Linked DNA regions of Homo sapiens. The protein of the gene in region 1 interacts with the protein of each later gene in a pairwise test. Each region holds a gene or a part of one and is shown on either strand. Other genes may lie near its edges.

The links.
Region 2: the proteins of DOK4 (region 1) and RBP7 interact in a two-hybrid assay, tested with the Homo sapiens proteins (one large-scale study listed by BioGRID and IntAct).

The regions. Positions count from the first base shown.
Region 1 is NC_000016.10:57,476,346-57,479,993, forward strand, and holds part of DOK4 (docking protein 4), read right to left. Parts: intron 3,413-3,648; exon of another isoform or gene 3,344-3,412; 5' UTR 3,163-3,343; coding exon 3,097-3,162; intron 1-3,096. UniProt on the Homo sapiens protein: DOK proteins are enzymatically inert adaptor or scaffolding proteins. They provide a docking platform for the assembly of multimolecular signaling complexes.
Region 2 is NC_000001.11:10,000,178-10,003,825, reverse strand, and holds part of RBP7 (retinoid-binding protein 7), read right to left. Parts: intron 1-3,648. UniProt on the Homo sapiens protein: Intracellular transport of retinol.

The sequences.
Region 1 (3,648 bases):
TTTTATAGATGGGGAAAGGGAGGCATCAAAACACTAAGGAATGGTGATGCTGGTATTTGCAGCAGGCTGTCTAGATCCAGGGCAGACCCTCACAGCCCACTGCAGGATCTGGCCAGGGCTCAGGCAGTGCCAGCCACAACAGAGGGGTCTCCTGGGGATAGGGATTAGACCCTTCCCCCTGCCCACCTGTACATCCCCGTGCCCCTAGTTCTCTGAGTCAGGTGAGGGTCTTTACAAAGGTAACCCCCACTCTTGTCTCCTGGGGCTTTCACTCACCCTCTCTTTTCATTCTCTTACCAACCCTGAAATGTAAGGGGCCCTGCTCCAGCTGGGAACCCAAAGCTGTTTGAGGTAAAGGGGTGGAGCTAGGAATCTGAGGCTCCTCCCACAGCATGGTGCCTTCCCTCCTGGCCCTGGCCACTGCTGATGCCCCTGTACCTTAAACTACCTACATTCTCTGTAGCTTCAGGGACTCCCCCAAGGGGGTGGGGAGCAGAGGGGAGTGACCACTCTAGGATTGAAGGGACAGACTGGCCTATCATTCATGGGTGGTGGAGAGGGAGTTGGCCCCAGCCACCAGCCAGAGCTGCCCTTGCATGACCCCTCCCTCCTGCCTAGACTTTTTTCTGCCCAAAGTCTGTGGCTGGGGTTTACCTACTCCTTCCAGCGGGCATTCCAAAAGCCCGACAGAGCCTGTTCCCCAGGCATCTCTGGTGTTCCTCTTACTGGAAACAGTAGGGAGACTGAGTGGTGGCCGAGAGCACAGCAGAGGAGGCCAGGGGGCCTCTAGGCCCCACCCCTCCTCGGCCCTACTGTGCCATGCGTACACTAGGTCCTTGGCAGGCAGGGTCCCAGGGTGCAGTGGCCCTAGGCAGCCCCCATTTCAAGATACCACTCAGAGCCAGGCCATTTCTGGCTCCTATCTGGGACCCTAGGAGGCATGTCTGCTCCTGCACCCCTGACCCTGGCTTGGCCCCTGTCCTACCCACCTAAACCACAGCAGCCCTCAGCTCTCAGCTGCAGCGCTCCCTTAAGACAGACACTGAATTTTATCCACAGAATCCTCACTCATATCCTGGTAGCCTCATTAACAGCCATGCTAAACAAGTGAATGACCATATGAAGGAACCGTGAATGAATGGATGGATGAATGGATGGATGCTGCCGACCCAGATACACCCTGCCAGGGTGGGCTCCATGCAGCCCGCAGCATCAGGGGCAGAAGGCCTGGGGGCCTGAGCATGCCGGTTGCCTGGTTACAGGATACACATTCACAGCCCCAGGGAGCCACGCGCTCAAGAGCCCTCCTTCCCACTTCGCACAGGGCTTTGATCAGTGCTTCAGAAACACTCTGCCACAGCTCTGCCGCGGGAGAAAGGCCCTGGCAGGTAGGAGAGCCGGCTCCTGATCTCTTTCAGCCCCTCCCCCCTCACCTCTGTGGGCTGAGATGAGAATGGCTGCTGGGGAGGGACCACAGCCTCTCACACCAGGGGAAGTGAGGCTCCTGGCTTCAGAGGGAAGAGAATTCCCTGCATGGATAGGGCCTGGCTATGCCCCACCTCCCCATCCAGGCTGTGCCCACCTGTCAGCCACTCAGTCTCCCTCTGGAACAGGTTTGATACTGAGCCCAAGTGGCTGCCCTTGTGGCTGGTGCCTTCCTGGCACACTCTGCCCTGGGCAAGGCCTCAGCCCAGCTGGCCCCTGGGGACCTGCTAAGTCTGGGGCCATAGGAATGAGAAGTGATGTTAGAAGCGAAGCCTCTGCTTCCTTGGCCTCCCTACCTCAGCCTCAGCTTCTCTCTTTGTTCTGTGCTCCAAGTCAGTGGGCTGATCCCCCTTTCAGAGGAAGAGCAAAGTAGCCGATGGCTGCCAGGGCCCAGTCTCAACTAGGTTGAGCCCCAGGGCAGGGAGGCACAGGAGGGGAAGTGGGGCCAGAACCACCTTCTCCAAGACCAGCCCTGCTCTGTCTGGTACCCAGGTAGGGAAGCTGGGTGGCAGATCCCTCTCCCACTCCGCATGCCCCCCAACCCCACTCAGGCTGAGCCAGGGATCCTTGAGCAGCCTGAGCCGACCCGCCCCCTTCAAGGCAATGGGAGAGAGAAGGGAGAAGGGGACAGGAGTCCTGGGTCAAACACAAGACTTGGGTGACCTCAGTCACCAGGGCTGTCCTTCCTACAGGGGAAGGGGCAACTGCCAGACCTGTCTTTGGCAGGGGGGCCTGGCAGAGGAATAGAGGCAGCTCTCAGACAGCCTCGCCGAGATCATGAAGTTGATCCCCTCTGCTCCTGTCTTCTAGGGGGTCTTCACCAGTTGGGGGTCTACAGAGGGTAGGACAGGATGCATGCCCAGTAAGACCTCTTCTCTGTAGCCCCTCCAAGCCCCCAGTTCAGGGCCAAGCACCAAGCAAGCACAGAGTCACCCACCAACAACTTGGAGGGAAGCAGCCTGTCCCAGAGCACTGGACCATTCTGCCCAAAGTTCTCATTTGGAAACCACATAAATATCAGCTTCAGTGCCTCACACCACCCCGTCTCGCCCAGCCAACCACTCCCCTTTTCAAACACTTCTTTAACATTAAACTCGACAACCAAAAATTTACTAAATATCTGCACACGGAAAGCAGTCAGAAGCAAGGGGAGAGGATGACCTAAAAGAAAAGAGGCCAGGAGAGGTGAGGGGAGGCCGGGGGTGGGGGGCAAACGGAAGGGAGAGGAGGCCAGGGGAAGTGAGACGCTGCTTCTCAGCTCAGACACAGCCCGGCCTTGCCAGCCGCCCCTGCTGCTGCTGTGGTGACAACTTCAACAATAGCAGGGGAGCCGCCTGCCCATCGGTGGCCACCATTGCTGCCACTACCACCACCACTGGCCCAGCTGTTGGGATGCCAGCCAGCCCTCTGGGGCGGGGGCTGCAGCAGGCAGAACCCAGCCCAGGCACATGCCAGGCAGCACGCTGGCGAGGAGCCCCGAGACCACAGATGCACGATGCCCGGCAGCCGGAGGGCAGCCGCGTGCCCCACGCGCCATGCCTCCAAGCCTGGGACCGAGTCCTCGGGCCCCCATCCCTTGGCAGGGCCCCTCCGCAGCTCAGGGTCACTCACCCCGAGCTTCCTGCTCTTCATCTTCACGTAGCCTTGCTTGACGATGTCACTGAAATTGGTCGCCATGGTTTTCCCACCTTTTAGGGGCGCGGGGCCTGGCAGAGGCGAGGGGAAGGATGCCCAGGTGCCTGGGTCTCCGGCTCCTCCAATCACCTGTTCCAGACACTCTGTCGGGGCTGCCGCGAGGGGCTGCTCCTCACCTCACCCGCCTCAGCATTGTTCTAGCAGCTCCTTCGCCCCGCGCCTGCTGGAAATAAAAATGACAGGGAGATTAGAGACAGTGACATCTTTCTCTTCCTCTCGCTGTCTCGCTCTCTTTTTTCCTTCCTCTTCCCACACTCCTCCTCTCTCCCTCTTCCCTCCCTCCTTCCTCCCGCCCTTCTTCCTTCCCTTCCCTCCCCACCCCAGGACGACAGAACCATTCAGGAAAACCGAGGTGGAGGCGGCAGTGAGGAAAATGGTCCAGCCCAGTCCCCTCCCTCACGGCTGGGGCTGGCAGTTAACCCCTTCCTGGGAGGACTGGCTCTGGCTCCTACTGTGGAGGTGGGGACC
Region 2 (3,648 bases), on another chromosome or scaffold:
TGAAATCTCGCTACTGCACTCCAGCCTAGGTGACAGAGCAAGAATCCATCTCAAAAAATAAATAAATAAAATAAAATATGTGAGGCAATTTGTTGTTAGCAAATTTACAATTTGCACTACTCATGTAGGGCAGGTGAGCCCCAGAGCGGGGATTAGCCTGCAGAGGTTCTTGGCTTTGCCCAGGAAAGAATTCAAGGGCAAGCCAGAGGGAGAAGAAAACAGCTTTATTGAAGAAGCAGTGTCACAGCTCTGTGACTGCTCCCGCAGAAAAGAGCTACCCCATAGGCAGAAAGTAGCAGCTCAGGGCAGTTTTGTAGTCATATTTATACCCACTTCTAGTTACATGCAGAGTAAGGGGTGGTTTTTTTGTTTTTGTTTGTTTGTTTGTTTGTTTATTCAGACAGAGTTTTGCTCTTGTCACCCAGGCTGGAGTGCAATGGCAGCACGATCTTGGCTCACTGCAACCTCTGCCTCCGGATTCAAATGATTCTCCTGCCTCAGTCTCCTGAGTAGCTGAGACTACAGGTGCCCACCACCACGCCCAGCTAATTTTTGTATTTTTGGTAGAGATGGGTTTCACCATGTTGGCCAGGCTGGTCTCGAACTCCTGACCTCAGGTGATCCACCCACCTCAGCCTCCCAAAGTGCTGGGATTACAGGCGTGAGCCACCATGCCCGGCTAACGGGTGGTTTATGCAGACATTTCTAGGGAAGGGGTAGTAACTTTTGGGTCCTCTGGTCATTGCCATGGAAAGGGGTGCTAACTCCAGGTGTTGCCATGGCAATGGTAAACTGATATGGCACACTGTTTTATGTGTTTTATGAAAAGCTGCTTCCATCCTATCCCTGTTTTAGTTAGTCCTCAGTTTGGTCCGCTGTCCCAAGCCCCGCTTCTGGCTTCTGGAGTTGAGCCCTGCCTCCTACCTCACTACCATGTTGCAACATTGTCACTTCACAGATTTGCAGTTACAAGGCTGGCCTCTTTAAATACCAAAATTTACTTTGAATTAGCATAAGTTCTGGGCCAGGTCCAGTGGCTCAGGCCTGTAATTCCAGCACTTTGGGAAGCCGAGGCAGGCAGATCACTTGAGGCCAGGAGTTCAAGACCAGCCTGGCCAACATGGTGAAACCGCATCTCTACCAAAAAATAAAATAAAAATTAGCTGGGCATGGTGGTGTGCACCTGCAGTCCTGGCTGCTGGGGAGGCTGAGGTGGGAGGATCGCTTGAGCCTAGAAGGAGGAGGTTGCAATGAGCCAAGATGGTGCCACTACACTCCAGCCTGGGCAACAGAGTGAGATCCTATCTCAAAAAATAAAAATAAAATAAAATGAATAAATTAGCATAAGTTCTGGTCACTTTCTGCCAGGTCCACACTTACTAGAACCTCAACAGTCCAACAGTCCAAAAGGCCATATTCCTCATAAGGCTGTTACCCAGGTCAAGCCATGCTTTTTCATCTACTAGATTATGTTAAATAGAAAATAAGACATTCGAGTAGGAGGGAACAGCCTGATGCACGTGCTATTACAAATGTGTGAGCATATACACCTGAAGGTAGGATCTCAAAGGAGTCCACACAAACGTACATTTATCTAAGCTTCAGATGTTTATATTAACCTTCAATCTCAAAGCCACTTCTAATCTCAAGGCAATGTGGGTTGAAGGCAAGAAGGGATCCCTTTAAATCCCAGTGTAGGGCCAGATGTGGTGGCTCATGCCTGTAATCCCAGCACTTTAGGAGGCCGAGGCAGGCAGGTCACCTGAGCTCAGGAGTTCGAGACCAGCCTGGCCAACGTGGTGAAACCCTGTCTGTACTAAAAATATAAAATTAACGGGGTGTGGGGGCGTGTGCCTGTAATCCCAGCTACTTGGGAGGCTGAGGCAGGAGAATTGCTTGAACCCGGGAGACGGAGTTGCAGTGAGCCAAGATCCGTGCCACTGCACTCCAGACTGGGCAACAAAGGGAGACTCTGTCTCAAAAATAAATAAATAAATAAATAAATAAATAAATAAACTAATTAAATTAAATAAATATATCCCAGTGTACACAGTAATCTGGGACAAGTTAGTAACACCACCACCTTCTTGGGTTCATAACAGGACTAAAGGCGAGGACTTGCACAAGTTAGTCAATATCTGTGGGCATTAACATGGGGCTTCTCCATTTCTGAAGCACGCACCTTCAGTGTCCTTGGCTGCTGTGGGGGTACACCAGGAACTCCCAAATCCCAGGTTAGCTCCAAATATTAAAACCCAAGCAAGGCAGAGGCAGGAGGATTGCATGTGGCCAGGAGTTTGAGACCAGCCTGGACAACACAGCAAGACACCGTCTCTACAAAAAAATTGAAAAATTGGCCAAGTGTGGTGGTATGCACCTGTTGTCCCAGCTACTTGGAAGGCTGAGGTGGGAGGATCGCCTGAGCCCAGGAAGTGAAGGCTGCAGTGAGCCATGATCGCACCACTGCACTACAGCCTGAGCGACAGAGCAAGACCCTATCTCAAAAAACCCAAGTAAACTTGCTTCTTTGTGCAAAGACAAGCTGCCTTTCTTCTCACTGCGGTTTGGCAAATGCTGGGAGAGAGTGATGCCAGAGCCCGGGTGGGAGCTGCAGGATCAGTTCCTGAACACTAGTTTTTAGACAAAAGGGAGTGATTTTCTGCCCTCAAATGAGATGCCAGCTGGAGCACATCATGAGATGTGTGCTGTGTATTTGCTGGTGACTTATTTGACCCTTAGCATCACTGCCAACAGGCATTTACCTCACTTCTACTACTAAAAAAGAGGCAATCAGCCAGGCACGGTAGCTCACGCCTGTAATCCCAGCACTTTGGGAGGCCAAGGCGGGTGGATCACGAGGTCAGGAGTTCAAGACCAGCCTGGCCAAGATGGTAAAACTCCGTCTCTATTAAAAATACAAAAATTAGCCAGGAGAGGTGGTGGGCACCTGTAATACCAGCTACTCAGGAGGCTGAAGCAGGAGAATTGCTTGAACTCAGGAGGCAGAGGTTGCAGTGAGCCGAGATCGCACCACTGCACTCTAGCCTGGGCAACAGAGAGAGACTCCATCTCAACAACAACAACAAAAAAAGAGGCGATCATTTATTATTTTCCTAGACCCTACAGTTTAAAGATCTAAGTACTATATCTGTGATTTTTTATGGAATGTATTTTCCTTACATGTACATGAACAAGCATATAAATTTAAAGTTAATTATATATTCAAGTAAATCAGTAAAATTCAAGATTGCTAGCTGAATTTTTTTTTTTGTCTTATTGACTTATTTTTTTTGAGACCAAGTCTCATGCTGTTGCCCAGGCTAGAGTGCAGTGTCGTGATCTGGGCTCACTGCAACCTCCACCTCTCAGGTTCAAGCGATTCTCGTGCCTCAGCCTCCCAATTAGCTGGGACTACAGGCATGAGCCACCATGCCTAGCTAATTTTTGTACTTTTAGTAGAGATGGGGTATTTCACCATGTTGGCCAGGCTGGTCTCAAACTCCTGACTTCAGGTGATCCACCCACCTCGGCCTCCCAAAGTGCTGGGATTATAGGCGTGAGCCACCTGCCCAGTCTGCTAGCTTAATTATTTTTTTTCAAGATGGAGTCTTGCTTTGTCTCCCTGGCTAGAGTGCAATGGCGCAATCT